Regions from separate parts of the Homo sapiens genome. Here regions 1, 2 and 4 are each linked to region 3. The links come from fine-mapping of genetic effects on gene expression. A gene starts in region 3. Each other region holds a variant in brackets. All regions are shown on one strand. Distances are between the middles of the regions.

What was found. PIP is the estimated chance that this variant, and not a neighbour inherited with it, causes the effect.
Region 1: its variant is fine-mapped to the expression of MEGF8 in skeletal muscle (GTEx, PIP above 0.99).
Region 2: its variant is fine-mapped to the expression of MEGF8 in atrial appendage (GTEx, PIP above 0.99).
Region 4: its variant is fine-mapped to the expression of MEGF8 in whole blood (TOPMed, PIP above 0.99).

The regions. Positions count from the first base shown.
Region 1 is chr19:42,376,092-42,381,224 of GRCh38, forward strand. It overlaps MEGF8 (multiple EGF like domains 8), which reads left to right. Exons shown (of 42, transcript NM_001271938.2): 42 at 1-2,674. The coding sequence ends at 684. Among named protein-coding and RNA genes, the nearest start is that of CNFN, 12 kb to the right of the region's middle. The variant TA/T (reference allele first, on the strand shown) is at 2,586.
Region 2 is chr19:42,126,312-42,131,455 of GRCh38, forward strand. The region is part of intron 1 of POU2F2 (POU class 2 homeobox 2); the gene reads right to left. Among named protein-coding and RNA genes, the nearest start is that of POU2F2, 3.6 kb to the right of the region's middle. RefSeq lists an enhancer at 3,577-3,686. The variant T/A (reference allele first, on the strand shown) is at 2,248.
Region 3 is chr19:42,323,289-42,328,432 of GRCh38, forward strand. It overlaps MEGF8 (multiple EGF like domains 8), which reads left to right and starts at 2,347. Exons shown (of 42, transcript NM_001271938.2): 1 at 2,347-3,142. The coding sequence starts at 2,956. It overlaps TMEM145 (transmembrane protein 145), which reads left to right. Exons shown (of 15, transcript NM_173633.3): 14 at 295-501; 15 at 1,449-1,776. The coding sequence ends at 1,529. RefSeq lists silencers at 2,273-2,462, 2,503-2,642, 2,863-2,932, 2,943-3,012.
Region 4 is chr19:42,282,282-42,287,425 of GRCh38, forward strand. CIC (capicua transcriptional repressor) reads left to right here. Exons shown (of 21, transcript NM_001386298.1): 3 at 4,490-4,639; 4 at 4,725-4,959; 5 at 5,039-5,144. Among named protein-coding and RNA genes, the nearest start is that of CIC, 16 kb to the left of the region's middle. RefSeq lists silencers at 1,301-2,210, 1,509-1,683. The variant G/A (reference allele first, on the strand shown) is at 3,130.

The sequences.
Region 1 (5,133 bases), 53 kb after region 3:
GTGGGAGACCCAAGTGGGCCCGGCGCCAACGGCTCAGCCGACTCGCAGGGCCTGCTCTTCTTCCGGCAGGACCAGGCCCACATTGACCTGTTTGTCTTCTTCTCCGTCTTCTTCTCCTGCTTCTTCCTCTTCCTCTCACTCTGTGTGCTCCTCTGGAAGGCCAAGCAGGCTCTGGACCAGCGGCAGGAGCAGCGCCGGCACTTGCAGGAGATGACCAAGATGGCCAGCCGCCCCTTCGCCAAGGTCACCGTCTGCTTCCCACCTGACCCTACTGCCCCGGCCTCCGCCTGGAAGCCGGCTGGGCTCCCACCTCCCGCCTTCCGCCGCTCTGAGCCCTTCCTGGCACCCCTGCTGCTGACAGGGGCCGGTGGGCCCTGGGGACCCATGGGAGGGGGCTGCTGCCCACCAGCCATCCCCGCCACCACTGCTGGGCTGCGAGCTGGGCCCATCACTCTCGAGCCCACAGAAGATGGCATGGCTGGCGTGGCCACACTGCTGCTCCAGCTGCCTGGCGGGCCCCATGCACCCAACGGCGCCTGCCTGGGGTCAGCCCTCGTCACACTGCGGCACAGGCTGCACGAGTACTGTGGGGGTGGTGGGGGTGCTGGGGGCAGTGGGCATGGGACTGGTGCGGGCCGGAAGGGACTGTTGAGCCAGGACAACCTCACCAGCATGTCCCTCTGACATGCCCAGGGTTCTCATCCACAGCAGCTGGGTCACCTGATAGGGCCGCCCTGGACTTGGGGTCCCTCCACCTGGGGGCCCCTGGACACTGTCTACTTGGAGACCACTGGCCCCCTTCCCCCAGGGTTGCCCAGATGGGGCCTCCTTTGTTCTGCATTCAGCAGCTATTTATCGAGTACCTACTCTGTCAGGCACTGTCATAGGCGTGGGGCAAAGCAGGAACCAAGAGACGAGGTTCCCTGATCTCATGGGACTTAGGTTCTGGTGAAGGGAGACAATCAGTGCACATGCACACACCCCACACGCATACACACATGAACACATGCACATGTGCACACACAAGTAAGATGGCTTCAGAGAGGGAGAAGCACTGTGAGGCCTCCAGAGGATGTGGCAGTGAGGGACGATGGGGTGAAGTCAGCTGGGCATTCAAAGAAGCTAGACTGAGAACGCCTGAGAAGAACCAGCTACGGGAAGAGCTTTGGGAAGCAAAGGCAGAGGCCCTGGGGTGGGAGCAGGCTTGTTTTATTGGAAGGACCAGAAAACTGGTAAGTGTGACCCAGATCAAGTGTGAGGAGATGAGGCTGGGGATAGTCAGGGGCTGGATCACCCAGGGCCTTGTGGGCCCCACATAGGGTTTTGGGTTTTATTCTCAGGGCAATGGGAAGCTGTTGGATGGTTTGATGAAGGGGAGTGACAGGATCCGATGTACCTATTTAAGAATTTAAGAGGGTCGGGTGCGGTGGCTCATGCCTATAATCCTAGCACTTTGAGAGGCCAAGGTGGGCTGATCACAAGGTCAAGAGTTCGTGACCAGCCTGGCCAATATGGTGAAACCCCATGTCTACTAAAAATACAAAAATTAGCTGGGCATGGTGGCACACACTTGTAGTCCGAGCTACTCGGGAGGCTGAGGCAGAAGAATCGCTTGAACCCAGGAGGCGGAGGTTGCAGTGAGCTCAGATTGCGTCACTGCACTCCAACCTGGGTGACAGAGCGAGACTCCACCTCAAAAAAAAAAAAAAAATTTAAGAGGTCACTCAGTTGTGCTGTGGAGAATGGACCGGAGGGACAAGAGGGGCAGCAGGGATGGTGGGCTGGAGTAGGGTGCTGGCAATGAGGGAGTCTGGCTCAGATGTGGGATGTGTATGGAAGAATATAAATGATGGTGTGGATGTCAGGGTGAGGGAGGAGACAAAACCACGATGACCCCTAGCTTTGTGGCCTGAACTGTGGGTGGCTGAGGGGATCGTTAATTGAATGGGGCAGACTGAGGCTTGTGAGGAAGATCAGAGTCTGGTTCTTGACATGAGATGCCCTTCAGACATCTCTTCACTCAGGTCCAACTAGGGATACAGAAACACTGAATATTTCAACAGCAGAAATTGAATGGGGGGATTGATAGCGCTGGCGAGGGAAGCAGCTGGAAAGAGACAGATGGCACCCTGAGACAGCCCAGAGGTGAATAGGACCCCCAGGCTGCAGGGATAAAGCTCAGTGGTGGTGTTACCTCACCGGGGACCAGGGTCACACAGCAAAGCTGGAACAACAGAGGCGTGTTGTGGGGGAGCCTCAGAGGGGACAAAACCTCTGCCTGAGATCCCACCCCAGGTGGGCATGGGGGCCACTGAGGTTGGGGATGAAAATGCCGGTACCGTCAGTGCACAGCCCTGTTCCAGACAGTGCTGCCTGGAAGATTTCTGGGCTCTCCTGAGGCGCCACCCCGCACCTGAGCCACCTCCTTGGACTCCTGTCCTCTACCCCTTGAGGACCTCCCTCCCTTCTACCCTAGCTGTCTTCTTGAACTTGGGACTCTCCTTTCCCAAGACTTCCATCACTAGCTCCTGGAGGGACTGGACTTTGCATCTTCCCTTCGCGTGGAGCCTCAGTGTGAGAGGCCC[TA/T]GCCAATGCGTGCATGTCAGAGGTGGTGGGGACCACATCAGAAGAAGAGGGGGGTGATGAAATTAACAAATAAAAAGTATGGGGAAAACCCAGGTGTCTGAGCGCGTCTGCACATGTCCCAGCAGGGCTAGGTCTCAACTCTGACCCAGCCCCGCATGCTGGATAACTTGGATAATTGCCCTTATGATGGTGCCACTTCCAAGCTGGGGTGGCTTTGTTCCTGGCTGCCCCTCTTAAAGGGGGAAGGGGGAAGGGGGAAGGGTATGCCCCAACAGAAGCATAATAAATACCAATAAACAGCTCTTGTTTCCCAGAAGGGACGCGCTGAGGGCAGACGTGGGCAGTGGAATTTGACCCTTCCCTAGATCTTCCTCAGGGAAACCCCAGTTTGGCTCAGGAGGGAAAACAGGCTGCCTTGGTCCCAGCTACGGCTTTTTGTTGTTGTTTTGTTTTGCTTTTTGAGGGGACAGAGTCTCACTGTTGCCCAGGCTAGTGTGCAGTGGTGTGATCTTGGCTCACTGCAACCTCTATATCCCGGGTTCAAGTGATTTGCATGTCTCAGCCTCCCAAGTAGCTGGGATTACAGGCACGCGCCACCATGCCTGGCTAATTTTTTTCTATCTTTGGAGGAGACAAGGTTTCACCATGTTGGCCAGGCTGGTTTCAAACTCCTGACCTCAAGTGGTCCGCCCACCTTGACTCCCAAAGTGCTGGGATTACAGTCATGAGCCACTGCACTTGGCCTTTTTCTTTTTTTTTTTGAGACAGGGTGTCTCTTTTTCTGTGACACAGGCTGGAGTGAAGTGATGGAATCATTGCTCACTGAAGCCCCAACTTCCTGGGCTCAGGCGATCCCCCCACTTCAGCCTCCCGAGTAGCTGGAACTACAGACGTGTACCACCTCACCCAGCTAATTTTTGTAATTTTGGTAGAGATGAGGTTTCACCATGTTGCCCAGGCTGGTCTTGAATTCTGGAGCTCAAGTGATCCTCCCACCTTGGCCTCCCAAAGTGTTGGGATTATAGGTGTGAGCCACCATGCCTAGCCCAGGCACAGATTTTATTCTGGGCCCCAATAGAAGGGTTCAAACCAGACAGGGCTGAGAATGAAATGAGACCCTAGCACAATGAGCTTTCTTTTTTTTTTTTTTTTTTTCTCTGAGACGGAATCTCGCTCTGTTGCCCAGGCTGGAGTGCAGTGGTGCAATCTCGGCTCACTGCAGGCTCTGCCCACCGGGTTCACGCCATTCTCTCGCCTCAGCCTCCCGAGTAGCTGGGACTACAGGTGCCCACCACCTCGCCTGGCTAATTTTTTGTATTTTTAGTAGAGACGGGGTTTCACCGTGGTAGCCAGGATAGTCTTGATCTCCTGACCTCGTGATCCGCCCGCCTCCCAAAGTGCTGGGATTACAGGCGTGAGCCACCGCGCCCAGCCCAGTGAGCTTTCTCTAATCCATTAGAGTCACAGTCAAAACCGAAAGCATCATGAGAGCTGCTTTACCTGGCATGCACCTAGGCAAACAAAATCCCTGATTCCTCCCAGGTGGGAGCTGGAGATCTCTGTCCTCTCCATCAGCCTCAGCAGCATAGGCATCTTGCTGGGTGTGTTAAACAATGTATCTTTTCTGCACATCCCGGCTCCAAAGTGCAAGCTGGTTTCTTCATCAGGTGCTCAGCGGAGGACGATGTGTGGGACCCAGAGGGTGTGTGAGTCTCCATTATGGGCCAGGAATAACACTGTATTTTCTTTTTCTTTTTTTTCGGAGATGCTCTTGCTTCGTCACTCAGGCTGGAGTGCAGTGATGTGATCTTGGCGCACTGTAGCTTCAACCTCCTGGGGTCAAGTGATCCTCCCACCTCAGCCTCCTAAGTAGCTGGGACTACAGATGCACGCCACCAGGCCCGGCTATTTTTTTTTGGTATTTTTGTAGAGACAGGTTTTCGCTGTATTGCCCAGGTTTAACATGGTATCTTCATACTTTGTGGGCAATTTAAGGGATTTCCAGGGGTTACCTTGACCTCACGTGAGTTTTGCCTTTATGAGCTATTAGTAGCACCTACCCTCCAGGATATGATCGTGGACTTGCATTTATATGAACTGAGCAGCACATGCTGGACAGTTTGCATAGCATACTGCTGTGGTTTCATTTGGTCTCTCCAGCAATCATATGAGGTCAGTAACCCGTAATCCCCATTTGCAGATGAGAAAACAAAAGGTCATAGACATGGTTTAGCTGTTGCATGAGAGCTGTCAATTGACTCTCAGACCTATGTGCCTGACCACCAGGCTCTTCCACCTCCCAAGGAAGGACCCCTTAAATTAGGTCGACATAGCTGAAAGCTGTCCCAGCACACGTTTAGAGGTGATGCCACATGACTACCTGTACCTCACAGCAGGAAGGGTGAGGCTTTTCCAAGCATCTGTAACCACAAATCAAAAGGGTCAACAGTCCACCTCACTCATGCCTGTAATCCCAGCACTTTGAGAGGCCAAGGCAGGCGGATCACGAGGTCAGGAGTTCGAGATCAGCCTGATCCACATGGTGAA
Region 2 (5,144 bases), 200 kb before region 3:
GTGTGCCTGTAATCCCAGCTACTCAGGAGGCTGAGGTAGGAGAATCACCTGAACCCAGGAGGCAGAGGTTGCAGGCAGCCGAGATCGTGCCACTGCACTACAGCCTGAGTGACAGAGCAAGACTCCATCTCAAAAAAAAAAAAAAAGAAGAAAAAGAGGGAATTAGGTCACAGATGGGAACAGAGGGAAGACCATATGAAGACCCAGGAGAAGACCAGTGGACCACAAGCCAAGGAGAGAGGCCTTGGAAGAGACCAACCCTGCTGACATCCTCGTCTTTAACTTACAGCCTCCGTAATTGTGAAAATGAATTTCTCTTATTTCAGCCACCTAGTCTGTGGTACTTTGATGTGGAAGCCCTAGCAAACTAAGCCTCTCACAGCCCCTGCCCTCCTGCTGTCCCATCCCTGAGCCCCCAGTTGTGGCTGTCTGTGTCCAGGTTCCTTCCCCACAAGACCAATGCGACAGGCCTGGTCTGACTCATCACTGGGTCCCCAGCATCACAAGCCCAGAACGGGTTGTAACTGCTGAATGTCCCTCTCTTTAGCAGTCTCTGTTTCCTACTACTTCTCACCCTTGTCTTACTGTCTCCCTGCTATTTATTTTATTTAATTTATATTTTGAGACAAGAGTCTTGCTCTGTCGGCCAGGCTGGAATGCAGTGGCACAATCACGGCTCACTGCAGCCTCGACCTCCTGGGGTCAAGCTATCCTCCCATCCCAGCCTCCTGAGTAGCTGGGACTACAGGTGTGCACCACCACATCCAGGGACTACAGCTGTGCACCACCACATCCAGCTAATTAAAAAAAAAATTTTTTTTTTTTGTAGAGACGGGTCTCCTTATGTTGTCCAGGCTGGTCTCAGACTCGTGGGCTCAAATGATCCTCATGCCTTGGCCTCCCAAAGTTCTGGGATTACAGCCATGAGCCACCATGCCTGCACTTTGCCATTTAAAACATTTCCTGAGGCCTTGGCATGGGCTGTTCCCTCTGTCTGGAACACTGTTCCCCAATCTGTCCACCTGGCGACCCCCGGACTCATCCTTCAGAACCCAGCATAAGCTCTGTTTTCTTTTCTTTTTTTTTGAGATGGAGTCTTGCTGTGTTGTCCAGGCTGGAGTGCAGTGGTGGGATCTCGGCTCACTGCAAGCTCCAGAGGTCTCCTGGGTTGAAGCAATTCCCTGCCTCAGGCTCCCAAATAGCTGGGATTACATGTGCGCGCCACTACGACTGGCTAATTTTTGTATATTTAGTAGAGAAGGGGTTTCACTGTGTTAGCCAGGATGGTCTCAATCTCCTGACCTCATGATCTGCCCACCTCAGCCTCCCAAAATGCTGGGATTACAGGCGTGAGCCACCACGCCCGGCCATAAGCTCTGTTTTCTATGAAACCACCACCTTGATGCCCCCAGCTCCCAGCCAGGTCTCTCTCCAGCTCCCCATACCCTAGCACCTTCCCTTGTCACTGTCTTAGAGGCTGACTGTAGCTAGCCGGGCCCCACTATGTCTCCCCTATCAGACTAGGAATTTTTCAAGGGCAGATCTGATCTCAGGTTCCTAAACACTCCCCAGCAGAAGACATGTGGATCAGTGGCCCCAAGGTCCTGATCTCCCTCCCCCAGGCCTTTGCCTCTGCTCGTCTCCCACTTGGGTGACCCTTTCCTTCTCTACTGGCAAACTCTTGCTCCTCTTTAAGGTCCAGCTCAAATGTCACCTCCTCTGTGAAGTACTCTCTGATTCCCCAGATGGTCAGTGTCTCTCTCTTCTGGGCTTCACTGACCCTGTACTGTGCTCCACCACATCCTGATCATCCTGGGCAGAGACCTCCACCCCAACTGTGGGCTCCTCAGGAGCCCAGGCTGGAGTCATTGCTGCACAGGCCTAGGAGTACGTCTTTGGAATGAATGAATGCATTAAAGAATCCCCTAACTGACCAGGGCCCAATCCTGTCTAAAACAAACCCCTATCTCTACTGTCACCCAACATCCCCAAGAAACCCTAACTTAAATCTTTAAGGTATGATTTCCTCTGCAGAGACTGTGGCTGGAAAGACAAGAGTGGTTTGAGGGAAATTTTTCACCATTCTGTTACCCTTATTCTCCCTAAATTATCCCAACCACTCCTACATATCCCTGCATACTCCCTGCCCCACACTTGGCTGGGTCACAACAAAATGGCCAACTGCTGCCCTTTGTCTTTTCTCTTTCCACCTCCCCTGTCAGAGCTCAATCTGAGAGAAGGGTCAGA[T/A]CATTTCCACCAGGAATGAACAGGGAGCTCCATTTCCACCGTGGACTAAAAGCCAAATGACGCCTTAACAGGGACTCCAGGGCACTAGCAATCATAGACTTGGAGGGTCCATCAAATGGCTCGGCCTCAGCCTCAGCCTGAGCCCAGGCAGAGATGCCCATCGCCTATCACTCAACTCTAGAAAAATATTGATGCCTGTTCCCACCCTAGACTCTGATTTCAGTGGTACAGGGTGTGACTTGGGCATCCAGATATTTAAAAGCCCCTCCAGGTGATTCTCTTTTTTTTTTTTTAGACAGAGTCTCACTCTGTCGCCCAGGCTGGAGTGCAATGGTATGATCTCAGCTCACTGCAACCTTTGCCTCCTGGGTTCAAGCGATTCTCCTGCCTCAGCCTCCCGAGTAGCTGCAATTACAGGCATGCATCACCATGCCCGGCTAATTTTTGTATTTTTATTAGAGACGGGGTTTCACCATGTTGGGCAGGCTGGTCTCGAACTCCTGACCTCAAGTGATCCGCCCACCTCAGCATTCCAAAGTGCTGGGATTACAGGCATGAGCCACCGCACCCAGCCCCCTCCTGGTGATTCTAATGTGCTCCATCCCCTGGCACCTTCAGAAGCCCCTCTCAAAGCCTCATTCACACACAAAAGATTGGTTGGTTATGTATGGCTATTCCCACCCCTCATCATAGGTAATGTGTAATATTTTAGGGGAACTGAAAGAGAAAAAGCAATGCATAGCCCTACCAGGCCCCTTGGAGCCATGTTGCCCCTTGAATCCCACCTTCCTCAGGTCAGACACCCCTCAACCAGGGCTGCCCAGCCCTGAGCTCACACTCACTTGCCCGACTGCCCCAGGCCTGGGACTCTTGGTCCTCTCCACCCTCCCACTCCTCCCTCCCCGGACTTTCACTTCTCCTCTGCATTTCCCCCCGCCAGTTTTAGCAGACTTAGGCCAGCTTCTCGTTAGCACTTACCGAAAACGGGGCTAAATATAGAGGGCCCAAGGACTGCCCCTCACCCCTCCTGGCCCCACTTGTCCTGTCCCCTGGGTCCCCTGCCTCCGCAGCCTGCTTCAATTAGGGGTATGGCCTGGGAGCCCCTGTGGGCAGGTTGGTGCTGCCGGGAACCTCTGTGGGCCCAGCTGGCCGAGCCCCCGTCCTCCCCAGAAGCAGCACCTCACCCCTCCCCACCCCACAGCTGTCCCTGGGTGGCCTCAAGGGAGTGAACATTTCTGAGTTGTCAGGAGGGAGGGATGGAGATACAGGCAGCAGACACAACAAGAGAGGTGGCCCCACAGCTGCGCTGACAGCAGGCAAGAGCTGCCAACAGTACACACCCCATGGCCACAGCCAGGCAAGGCCCCGGCCAACACAATACAAGAAACAGATGTGCACAGATTCCAGACAGGAATGTGAACAGGTTTGCAGATACGACACATGCCCAGACATGATGCCACGGGCATATATGCAAAACACACACCCAAACGTGCGTACACACATGCACTCACACACACTCTCACACTGAGTGACACACAGCCAGCCAGACACACGTAAAAAGTATACAAACTCACACACCCGGAGTCGAACACAGACATACACCCTCCCCCTACATACTACACCCAGTCACTCACAGACTCAGACATGTGTACGCACACATGTACTTACACATGTTCTCACACCAAGTCACATCAGTCCAGCCAGAGATACACACCCAGACATGCACATGCTCACACAGAGTCACACACACAAACACAAGTGCACACACATACACCCAGAGTCACCTTATCCTGGAAGATGGCCAGGGCTGACCTCTGAACCCAGTTCACAGGTGTGGAGTCTGAGACCAGGCAGGGTGAGTGATCTGCCCACAGCCACACAGTGTATTAATTCATGTCCAGGCAGGGAAAATTCACCCCAGTCTTCCCACACTGGGCTGTTCTGTGAGAAATCCCAAGTAAAGGGTTTAGCCTACTGCCCAGCACCTCTGAGGTCCCCATTTAACCCCAGAGAGGAACGAGTCAGTGGGAGCAGACACCCTGGATCTCTGTGTCTACACTGTATGGACACACACACATATACACAGTTGCATACACAGTCACCTCAACAAATAAACATGTCACCCTGCAAATAGTCTTCCTTTCATCCCACCCCTCTCCTCACCGCCTTTGCTTGCTCATACCCACTCATTCTTCATATCCCTGCTCAGACACCCCCTTCCTCCAGGAAGCCCTCCTTGACACTCTACCAACTAAATCACATGTTTTCAGGGCTCCTACGATCCCCTAATACCTCCCCGTCCTGGCCCAACCCCTCTACCTATGTCCCCCTATCCCAGCCCTGACCCCTCTGCCTGGGCCTCCCCCATCCCAGCCCCAACCCCTCTACCTATGTCCCCCCATCCCAGCCCTGACCCCTCTGCCTGAGCCTCCCCAACCCCAGCCCTGACCCCTCTGCTTGGGGCCTCCCTCATCCCAGCCCCAACCCCTCTACCTTTGTCCCCCCATCCCACCCCGACACCTCTGCCTGTGCCCACCACCCCAGCCCTGACCCTTCTGCCTGGGCCTCCCCCATCCCAGCCCTGACCCCTCTGCCTGGGCCTCCCCCATCCCAGCCCTGATCCCTCTGCCTGGACCTCCCCCATCCCAGCCCTGACCTGTCTGTACTGTCATTGGTGACAGGTCTGTCTTCTCCAATAAACTGGGAGCTCCAGGAGGACAGACCTGAGCTACCCTTTCCACTGTACTTCCAACACCCAACACAGAACTACTCAATAGATACATGTTGGTGGAGGACACACGGGTGCCCGCACACAATGGCGCATATAGGACAGCACACACCACCAAACCAAGACTCATGCCCATGGTCATGCCTACACAGCCACAAATGAAACAGGC
Region 3 (5,144 bases):
AAGCTACATGCAGCCAGTGGCTATCATACAGTGCAGGACGCTGACCCTAAGCAATCAGTGACAGCTCAGTGATCAGGCCTCTGATGGAGGAAGCACAGGCCGAGTTTTGTTGAAGGGAAAAGGTGAGGGTCCAGGGCATTTGGAGAGCCCAGAGGGGACGCCTAATCCAGTGTGAATGGCTTCAGGGAAGTGTGGTGGATGTCAACTGAAAGGGAATCCTTCGGACCCCAAGTTTATGGGGACAGCCTCCGGCCTGACAGTGCCTCTCACACCTGCTCCTGGCCCTGGCCTCAGATCATGACCCGCCCATCAGCGGCCAACAAGAACTTCCCGTACCACGTGCGCACGTCGCAGATCGCTTCAGCCGGAGTCCCTGGACCCGGAGGGAGCCAATCCGCTGACAAGGCCTTCCCGCAGCACGTCTATGGGAACGTGACGTTTATCAGCGACTCGGTGCCCAACTTCACGGAGCTCTTCTCCATCCCCCCGCCCGCCACCTCCGTAAGCCCCGCGGCCCCAGCGCCCGAGGAGCTGCTGGCGCCGCCCCTGGAGTACCTGACCCCGCTCCCGGCCCCGCCGCCGCCCCCAGCGCCCGGACCCCTGAGCCCTCCTCCTGCCTTTCGCACTCCCCGCGCCCCAACACCGCGCCGCGACCGTCCCCTGGCGCCCGCGCCCACCCTGCCTGACTGGGTTCTGGCGCTGTTGCGCACACCCCCGCAGACTCCCTGCGCCGTGCCCCCACCGCCCGCCTTCCGCGGCTCTCCCCCAGCTCCCCGGCCGCCGCCGGAGTTCGCCCCGCGCGCCCCGACGCCGCCCTTTGAGTACCTGGCCCCGCTGCCCAGGCGCCCCGCCACCCAGTCCTTCCCTGACTGACAACGTGCGTCCACACCTGGGGTGGAAGGGTTCTCCGGGGGAGGGGGACGGGCCTTCGGGGCCGCATCTGCCCCCCGAGGGTCCCGGACGGCCTCTGACCCTGACCCCCCTCCCAGGCCGGGAAGCAGGTGGAGGAGACAGCGGTGGCGGCGGCGGTGGCCCCGAGGGGCCGCGTGGTGACCATGGCCGAGCCGGGCGCAGCCTCCCCCCCACTTCCCGCTCGGTTCCCCAAGGCGGCCGACTCGGGCTGGGACGGCCCGACGCCGCCCTACCAGCCGCTCGTGCCCCAGACGGCAGCGCCGCACACCGGCTTCACCGAATACTTCAGCATGCACACGGCCGGGGGCACTGCACCCCCGGTCTGAGCACCCCTGCCCGCCCCTGCCCCATGGGCCATGACCGGGCCCCGGCCGGGCTCCGGACCCCTGCTTTATCCCGGCCCGAGAGCTCGCCCATCCCCGGCCTTCCCGACCCTTCCCACCCCGCGCGCCCAGGTTGGGTACGCTGCGTCCCGCCCCCCTCCCCTCTGTGCCAAACGGTCCCGCGGGAGCCGCTCTCCCCGTCCCCTCCCTCAGCCCCTGCCCCGAGCGGCGCCGGATTCTGGGCTCCCGCTGTTCCGTGACCTCCGGCCCCCTGGCCCCCTTCGAGACCTCTGACCCCGCTGGACTCCGGAACACCCGTGGTGACCGCCGGGACCCTGCCTGTGACTCTCCAGGACTCTGCGACCCCGGGATGGATATTGCGATGCTGGTCTCGACCCTGAAACCCTCCCTCGGATCTGTGACCTCGGACCCGTACTCCATCTGCCGCATCTCCATTCCGGGGGCCTTCCCTCGGGTCCCTGGCAGAAAGACATTTTACCCCTTCTTGCCAAAATAAAAAAGGATTCGTTTTTATCTATAACATGGCTTCTTTTGCATCTTGATGGTGTTCAGCGGCGGGGCTGAGCCAGAACTATGTCAGGCTCGGGACCTCAGTGTGTCCATCTGTGAAATGGGAATTTGGAACCGGAGGCAGGGGCCTGTATAACCTGATCTTTATGTTGCCCCAGAATGTGGGAACATTGAAGATGATCAAACATCTAGCAGGGTCTTGCACCGCTCCTTTATTTTTGCCTTCCTTTCCTCACTCAGAGGTAGAGGCGCCCTCCAGTGGCCCATGCTTTGCTGAACCACAGGCACCCAGAGTTTGGGTTACGATCTTAGCACTGCGCATATGTGTATTTCTCTCCCTCCAGGAGGACGCTGCTGCGCATGCGGTTGGGAACAAATGGGCGGGGATTTCCCCGGAAGTCTCCCTTTATGGAGGGTTGGGGTTGGGCGCTCCGCAGTCCTCCCAGGGCCGCTCTGACCGGCCGCTCTGTAACTTCTCGCCTCCTCTTCGCCGTCCCTCCCACAGCGGCTGCTCGGCTCCCGCCCCCTCGCCCTCCCACAGCGGGTCTTCCCGCGGCCGCTCTGGCCCAAGCGTCCCCTCGTCTCTCTGATCTGGCCCATCCGGCTTCGGAGGGAGGCGAGGGTGGGTGAGCAAAGGGATTGGGTCTGTGGGGTCCAGGCCCGAACCCCTGAAGACGGGCTCCGCCCCCGGCACCCGCTCGCGCCCCGCCCCCGGCTGGAGGAGTCTCTCCTGGACCATCCGAACCTAGCCTGTCCCGGCCCGCAGCCTCTATGGAGGCTCCTGCCGGGCCGTAGAGCCCTTCGCCCCCTGGGGACCCACCCGTCTATAAGGTCCGTTTGGCCTGCAGCAGCCTGAGTCCGTAATGCTGGGCACTGTTCATGGGATCGGCCCCCTATGGAGCCCTGTGTCTATAGGGGACTCCTACGGTCCCTAGGGTTCGGCCCCGTCCATAATGACTCCATATACAGGGCCTTCCATCGCTCTATAGGGCTCAGCCCTCGGCTTCCAGAGCCTGTCAGCAGTGGCCGTACCCTTCGCCGGGACTGCCGGGTCTCCGGGACCTCTTCGATCTACAAGGTCATGTTATGCCTATAGAGGTCGCATTTGCAGGGCCTCACCCCGGGTAGAGGGTCCTCTCCAGGTTTTTACGGCCTGTCCCCGCTCTAAGGGTCAGTGCAGGAGGCGGCGATGGCCCTGGGCAAGGTTCTGGCCATGGCACTGGTTTTGGCCTTGGCCGTGCTGGGGTCGCTGTCCCCTGGGGCCCGGGCGGGGGACTGCAAGGGGCAGCGGCAGGTGCTGCGGGAGGCGCCAGGCTTCGTGACGGATGGTGCGGGCAACTACAGCGTCAATGGCAACTGCGAGTGGCTCATCGAGGGTGAGTGGGGCCGCGTGGGTCACTCACTAATTCGCTGGTAGTTCATTCATGTGTGCATTCATCCACTCACCACATTCCCAGAGCTCGGTTCTGGTCCAGGCCTTTTGCTCTAAAATGCCTGACACCCAGGGTTGCAGCCAACCTGGGCCCTGCCCTGGAAGGCCTCCAAGTCTGGTGGGGGAGATGCACCTACACCCAGATTTACAATTACAAGACAGGAGCATCAGTGCCGGGCCTTCTGAGTAACTGTTAAGAACTCAGGGTCTGGGTCCAATCATTTGGCTTTGAATTTGGTTCTACTACTACTACTTTTTTTTTTTTTTTTTTTTGAGATGGGGGCCTCACTCTGTCACCCAGGCTGGAGTGCAATGGTACCAACACAATTTACTTACTGCAGCCTCGACCTCCTGGGCTCAAGTGATCCTCCCACCTCAGCCTCCCAAGTAACTGAGTGTGTAGAGACAGAGTCTCACCATGTCGCCCAGGCTAGTCCTGAACTCTTGGGCTCAAACGATCCTCGCACCTCAGCCTCCCAAAGTGTTGGGATTGTAGGTGTGAGCCACTGTGCCTGGCTTCTTATTATTAGCTTTGTGACTTTGAGCAGGTGGTTTTCTTTCTCTGAGGTTCTGTTTCCTTCCCCCACAAATGGGATAACAACAGTACTCACCTCATAGAGTTGTTGGAATGAAATGAAAACAGGTATTTAACATGCCTGATGTGTGGCATATAGTAACTGTTCAATAAATGGCATTAGGATTATTGTTGTTGTTATTTGTGAAGTACTTCAATAAAAGCATTTTTCTTCAGTCATTCATGTGCCAGACATTATGTTTCCCATTGGACATAGCCCAGACTGAGACAGCTCCAGCAATCCCTGGTGACTTAGGTCTTGGAGTCTAGTTGGGGAGACAAACACATTAATAGTGAGAGACAAGAGTGGTCTTTGATGGAGGAACCCCAGAGGCCTGGGAGAGCCCAGAGAAAGTGCCTGATCTGGGGCCGGGGAGAACAGAGAGGCTTCCTGGAGGAGGAAATGTCTAAGCTGAGACTTAAAGGACCAATAGGAATCTGTCAGGAGTGGGAGGAAAGGCCCCAGCCCTACCCTTCTGGGCTCCCAGTCAGTGGGAGAGACAAACCCACTCCGAGGCTGTTTGTTTTCCTTTTCCACCCAATAAACTCCTATGCATGCCTCAGAACCCTGCCCCAGTGGCTCTTTCTCTGTGAAGACATGTGGCTTAACCTGGGGTATAGCTGAGATCAGAGGCATCTGTACGAGGGAGCAGAAGGGCATTCCAGGCAAGAATAGCTGTGCAAAGGCGGGGAAGCGGGAGAGTGATGCTTTTGAAGAACTAGAAATCCAGTGTGTTAAAACATAGAATACTGGCAGGGTATGGTGGCTCATGCCTGTAATCCCAGCACTTTGGGAGGCCGAGGCCGGCAGATCGCCTGAAGTCAGGAGTTTGAGACCAGCCTGGGCAGTATGGTGAAACCCCATCTCTACTAAAAATACAAAAATTAGCTGGGTGTGATGGCGCGCGCCTGTAGTCCCAGCTTCTCAGGAGGCTGAGGCACAAGAATCACTTGAACCTGGAGGTTGCAGTGAGCCAATATTGTGCCACTACGCTCCAGTCTGGGCGGCAGAGCGAGACTCCATCTGAAACAAAAACAAAAACATAGAATACAAGACAACGAATGAGCCAGAGGCTGCAGGGTGGGAGGAGCCAGCAGGTGTAGGGCTCTGTGATTTTGAGCTGTATCCTGAGGGCAATACAGGGGTGAAAGAGAAGTTGAAAGGCAGTACCTGCAGAAGCCCAGGAAGGCCTCACAGAGTAGTGGATGTAAAAGCTGGCCTCCAGACAGGGGAGGTCCTGGGCAAAGGCCAGAGGTGTGACAGAGCCTGGATCATGCAGGGCCTCCCTTGGGAGGCTGTGGAGCTTTGTCTTTGTCTGGGGGCTCTGGGGAGCTATGGAAGGGTTTTGAGCAGGGAGAGGACATGATCTGA
Region 4 (5,144 bases), 41 kb before region 3:
CTCTCCATTCCTTCAGCTCTGTCAGTGGATGAGGCAGGTTGGGGAAAGGGCTCGTCTGCTCCTGTTGACCATCCAACCTGTGTAAGAGCCCAGTCTTGGTCCATCTGAGCCTGTGCAACCTTTACGTGCCCAAGTGTGTGACCCCAGTCCTGTGCCTTTACTGGGTATGGCTCCAGGGCCCCTCTTGGGTGATCCAGGGCCTCTGGGTCTCTGCCAGATGGGCTCCACATCCTTGCCTGTGTCTTTGTGTGAGCCCCCCTCGCCTTTCTGTGGTCCACGTGGCTCTGTATCATTGTCTAACTATATTCCCCAGCCTCTGTTTGGAGTTCCCTCCCTGGGTCCACCCTGAGGTTAAGCCTTGAGTAATGGAAACAGCACTTGAGTTAGAGCTCTGGGCTGGTACATCTTGACTGCATGATCTTGCCACAGTTTATTCAATCTCTGAGGCTCATTTTTTCACCTGAACAATGGGTGTAATAAAGCATACCTCCCTAGGTGGCTGTGAGGATTCAATGAACCAGATAATACATACAAGCTCCCAGCACACAGCAGCCCCAGTAAGTGTTAGTTTCCTTTCTTCCTGGCCCTTTTTTTCTGGGAGGGGGGGCGGGGTTAGTGGGTGGCTGGCAGAGCAGTGTGGTGGGGCCAGCCATGGTGTGCTCTGTGGTTCCCTGCCTTATACTGCTAGACAGAGGGTCCAGAGTGGCCAATGAGTGTCAGGGTGGGTGGCTGAATGATGGCGGTGGCCACTGAGCTCTGTATACCTGATGGGCCTGGGTACTGAAGCAGGTAGCACCCATTAGGGTAGGATTATATAGAGGGTGGGGTCGGTATGATGGTGTCTGTGAGAGCTGAGTGTGCACTGGGGATAGGAGGCGCTTTGTGAGTGCTAGGAAGGCTGTGTGTGTGACGGAGGAGTGTGTGGTTGTGTGGGAGGGGTGTGGAGTGTGTGTAGTGGACAAGCAGGGCTATGCTGAGTTCCTCCTGTTTGACATGTTGTCTGTTTGCATGATTCATGTGGGCTGGTGGGGGTGTGATGAGGATGCGGGTTGGCGAAGCATGTGTGACAGGGCATGGATGAGATGGGTGATGTGAACAGGATGGGTGAATGCACGATGGTGGGTGGGGAGCGATGGACCGTGAGCGTGTGAGGTTGTACATCTGTGTGAGCAGGTATGTGAGGTGTGACAGCGTGGGTGTAAGACAGAGGGCATATGTGCCCGTGGGGTGTGTAGGAGATAATGGGTGTGGCACGAAAGTGTGTCTGTATGTCTGTGAGGAGTGTGAGTGTGAGTAGGTGAGGGCTCAGGATGCCTCGCCCAGCCCTACGCGCAGTTTGTCTGCCCAGCGGGGCCAGGCGCGCCCAGGCGGGTGTGCGGGAGGCGGGCCGAGCCGCGCGTGAGCGTGTTCCTCGCGCGGACTGGACACACAACAGCACCACGCACAACCCAGAGACCTCCGCAGCGCGGCGCCCCGAACCGCCCCCCTGGCTCGGTGCCTTTACTGCAGTGCGCCCTCCCTGCCACCCTCCTACCGCGGCCCCGCCCCCGGCCGGCTCGGGGCCAACCGGAGCCCGCCCCGCCCTGCCCTTATTTGCATATGACTGACGTTCCCCCGGGGCGGCCAATGGGGGCGGGCGCGGCGGGGCCTGACCCGCGCGCGGCGGCGGCAGCCAATGGGCTCACGCGCGGGGGGCCGGGCTTGCGCGGAAGGCCGCGGGGGAAGCGGGGAAGGGGCGGGGGGAGGCGCGGCGGGGGGAGGGGAGCGCGTAGTAGTGGCGGGGCGGGGAGGCGGTGGTGGTTCGGCGCGGGGCTCGCTCGGAGCGCACGGACGCACGCACGCTGGTCCGTCTGCCCGCCCGGGGCCGGAGGTCGACCCGGCGCTGAGCCTCGGGCCCGGGGCCCGGAAAGGCGGGGCGGCGGCGCCGGCAGCCGGGACGCGCGGGGCCAGAGCCGTTACCCGCCGGAGCTGCGAGGGAGGGAGGGAACGAGCGAGCCAGCGAGCGGGGAAGGGAGGGGGCCGCCCCCGCGCACGCGCGTCGCGCCCCGCCCCGCCTGCCCCGCCTGCCCCGCCCGCCGGACTCCGCGAGGGAGGAGGGAGAGGGAGGGGGCGGTGCCGATGGCCCCCGTGCCGCGCGCCCCGTGACGGCCCCCGCGCGCGCCGGGGGGCGGGGCGGGGCCGGTGCGCGCTGACCTCCCCCGCCCCCCGGGCGGCGGGAGGCAGGCGGCGCTGTGCGCAGGCGCGCCCGGCAGAGACCCCCGCGTGGGGCGGCCGGAGGGGGGCGGCGGGGGGGGGGGCATGCGGCGACGGCCTCCCGCTCCCCCCGGGCCCAAGCGGCGACGGCCGAGGAGCGGGCTGCGGGCGGAGCGGCGTCGGCCGCTGAGGAGGTGCGAGCCCCTGCCGGGTCCCCCCTGCGCCGGACCATGTATTCGGCCCACAGGCCCCTGATGCCCGCGTCCAGCGCGGCCTCCCGTGGCCTCGGCATGTTCGGTCAGTAGCGCCTGGGCCCTGGGACTGCAGGGGTCAAGGTGTCGGGGTGCTAAGTGCGGAGTAACGGTGGTGGGGGTATAGTAGGGGAGAGAACAGTAGAGGCAGAGTAAAGGGATGACGGGGAAAGTTACGGAGCTCGGCCGGGCCGAGTGGTTAGTGATGGCAGGTGGGAGTGTAGCGGAGTGGGGCGTATCTGGGGACAGCTGTGATGTTAAAGTGATGGGATGGCACAGGTCCGCTGTAATAGAAAGGTGAGGGGTGCAGAGTAACTGGCTCTGGAGCATGGGGTAGAATAGGAACAGCACGAGACCTGCTGGTCCTAGGGGAGGAGGCTTGGATTGGGTAGTGGGGCTAAGGACAGGGCTCAGGAAGCGAGTGAGGCACTGTTAGCTGAGATCAGAGTGACAGGCTGCAGTGTGTGGTGTAGTTTGCAGAGAGCGCGACACCTAAGAACCTGGAGGGTTGTGCACTGGGGAGGGGTTCAGGAGGGAGCAGGACCAAAGGACTGCCCTCCATTGTCTGCTGGGTCCCTTTTCCCCACCCCCCAGAAAAGAGGAGGCCTTGATGGGAAAGATCTTTGCAAAGAGAGGCACAGGTCTAAGTCCCTGGAGGCTTTTATATGGGGTTGGAGGGCCCAGC[G/A]GGTTTTCAGGGGTAAGGGACAGGGTCATCGTAGTCTTGAGTGCTCTTCAGTGCTGTCTTCGTGATCCCAGTCCCTTGTTTCCTGAGGTCTACTTTTTCCTTTGTCAGCCCCTCTCAGAATCAGGTCTCGAGGCCAGTGCCTCGCACAGAGCTCCCCCCTGTCCAGGCTTCTGAAGGCATGGGGAGGTCACCTCAGGTCAGGTTGATCCGGATCAAGGGAAGGCCTGGAATGATGGAGAGCAGGGCTAGGGCGGTTCCCTCCTCCCTTCTTCATCTTCCCCGAGCAGGGGCCTCTCTCCTCTGCTGGTTCCACTTCCCCCAGGGAGCCAGGCAGTGTGAGGGGAAGCCCACTGGTATCCTAGGCCCGCCCCAAAAGTCCAGCCAGGGGTAGGTCCCAGCCTAGGGCTTGCTCTTCCACCACCCACCTCTTGGGGCTGAAGGTTGGACCCCTGGGACCAGCCTCTTGGTGAGGAAGCATCTTCCTGTGCATATCCTCAAGGAAACACCTGGCACTTGTGCCCTCTCTGGGTAGAGACTTGTTACAATTCTCTCTTCTGGCCCATTGTCCGTGGTTTTTCTTCCAAGGAGTTTACCACACCCTCCCCTGTTTTGGGCAAGGGGGCTGGACCCTGGACTACAGATAAGCCGAGGGGCTGATGGGGAAGGGAGGCTGGGAGGCCGATTTCTGGATGGTGCATTGTCTTTGTGGGGGCAAAGGAGAGAGCTGCTGGAGCCACCTGTGCCCAGCCAGGAAGGGCAGGTCTGGCACTCTGTGTTTGTGGTGGGGGAGGAAGGCAAGGAGCAGGACCTCTCCCACACCACAGTTGTAAGAGACCCCACAGCCTGTGCATAGTGAACGGAGAGTTGGAGGGGAGGGGACGTGGGGCCGTATGCCTCAGGAAAGGGAAAGAGAGCATGAGGCCAAGGTGAGACGCTGTGTTGGGCGGCGACTGGGCTGCTGGGAATGTGGCATGACGGGGGTGGGGGTCCCAGCCCGTAGAGGTCTGGGGCCTTGGGAGTGTGGGATGGCAGCCAAGCATGACCTGGTTTGTGGCAGGAGCAAATCGTTCCTCTGGCCTGGTCCCTGGTGGCAGGGCTGGTGGAGATTGGTGGGGGGAGGAGTGGGGCGTGAGTACTATTTCCCTTCCCTGCTTCTGTTTTCTTTTTTATAAATCTAGAAACCTTTCAGGGAGGAGTTTTTCCTGAGTGACGTTGCATGGACGAGTCCAAGAGGCTCTGGTGTTGGGGGTGGGGGGTAGACAAAAGGGGTGGGGCTACCTCATCTAGGGTGGGGAAGAGCTTGAGTTGGGGTTGGGGCCAGGCTCTCCTGCTGCACAGCTCACCTGGCTCCTTTCCACAGTGTGGACGAATGTGGAACCTCGCTCTGTGGCTGTGTTCCCTTGGCACTCCTTAGTCCCCTTCCTGGCACCCAGCCAGCCTGACCCCTCCGTGCAGCCGAGCGAGGCCCAGCAACCTGCCAGCCACCCAGTGGCCTCCAACCAGAGCAAAGGTGAGGGCTGGTGGGGACTGGGGGGAGGCAAGGGTGTGGGGTCCAGGTGGCCTAGGAGCCCTCTGATCTACCTCTGTGTCCCCAGAACCTGCTGAGTCGGCAGCTGTTGCTCATGAACGGCCACCAGGTGGGACAGGGAGTGCTGACCCTGAGCGGCCCCCTGGAGCCACATGCCCTGAGAGCCCAGGACCCGGACCCCCACACCCTTTGGGGGTGGTGGAATCTGGTAAGGGTCCGCCTCCCACCACGGAGGAGGAGGCCTCCGGCCCCCCAGGAGAGCCCCGGCTGGACAGTGAGACAGAGAGTGACCATGATGATGCGTGAGTTCCCTGAGGCCTGGGACTTGGGGGTGGGATGGCCAGAGACATGGCCCTCACTGTCCCTGCTGCCCCGCCGCAGCTTCCTCTCCATCATGTCTCCTGAGATCCAGTTGCCTCTACCGCCCGGAAAACGTCGGACCCAGTCCCTCAGTGCCCTACCCAAGGAACGGGACTCATCTTCTGAG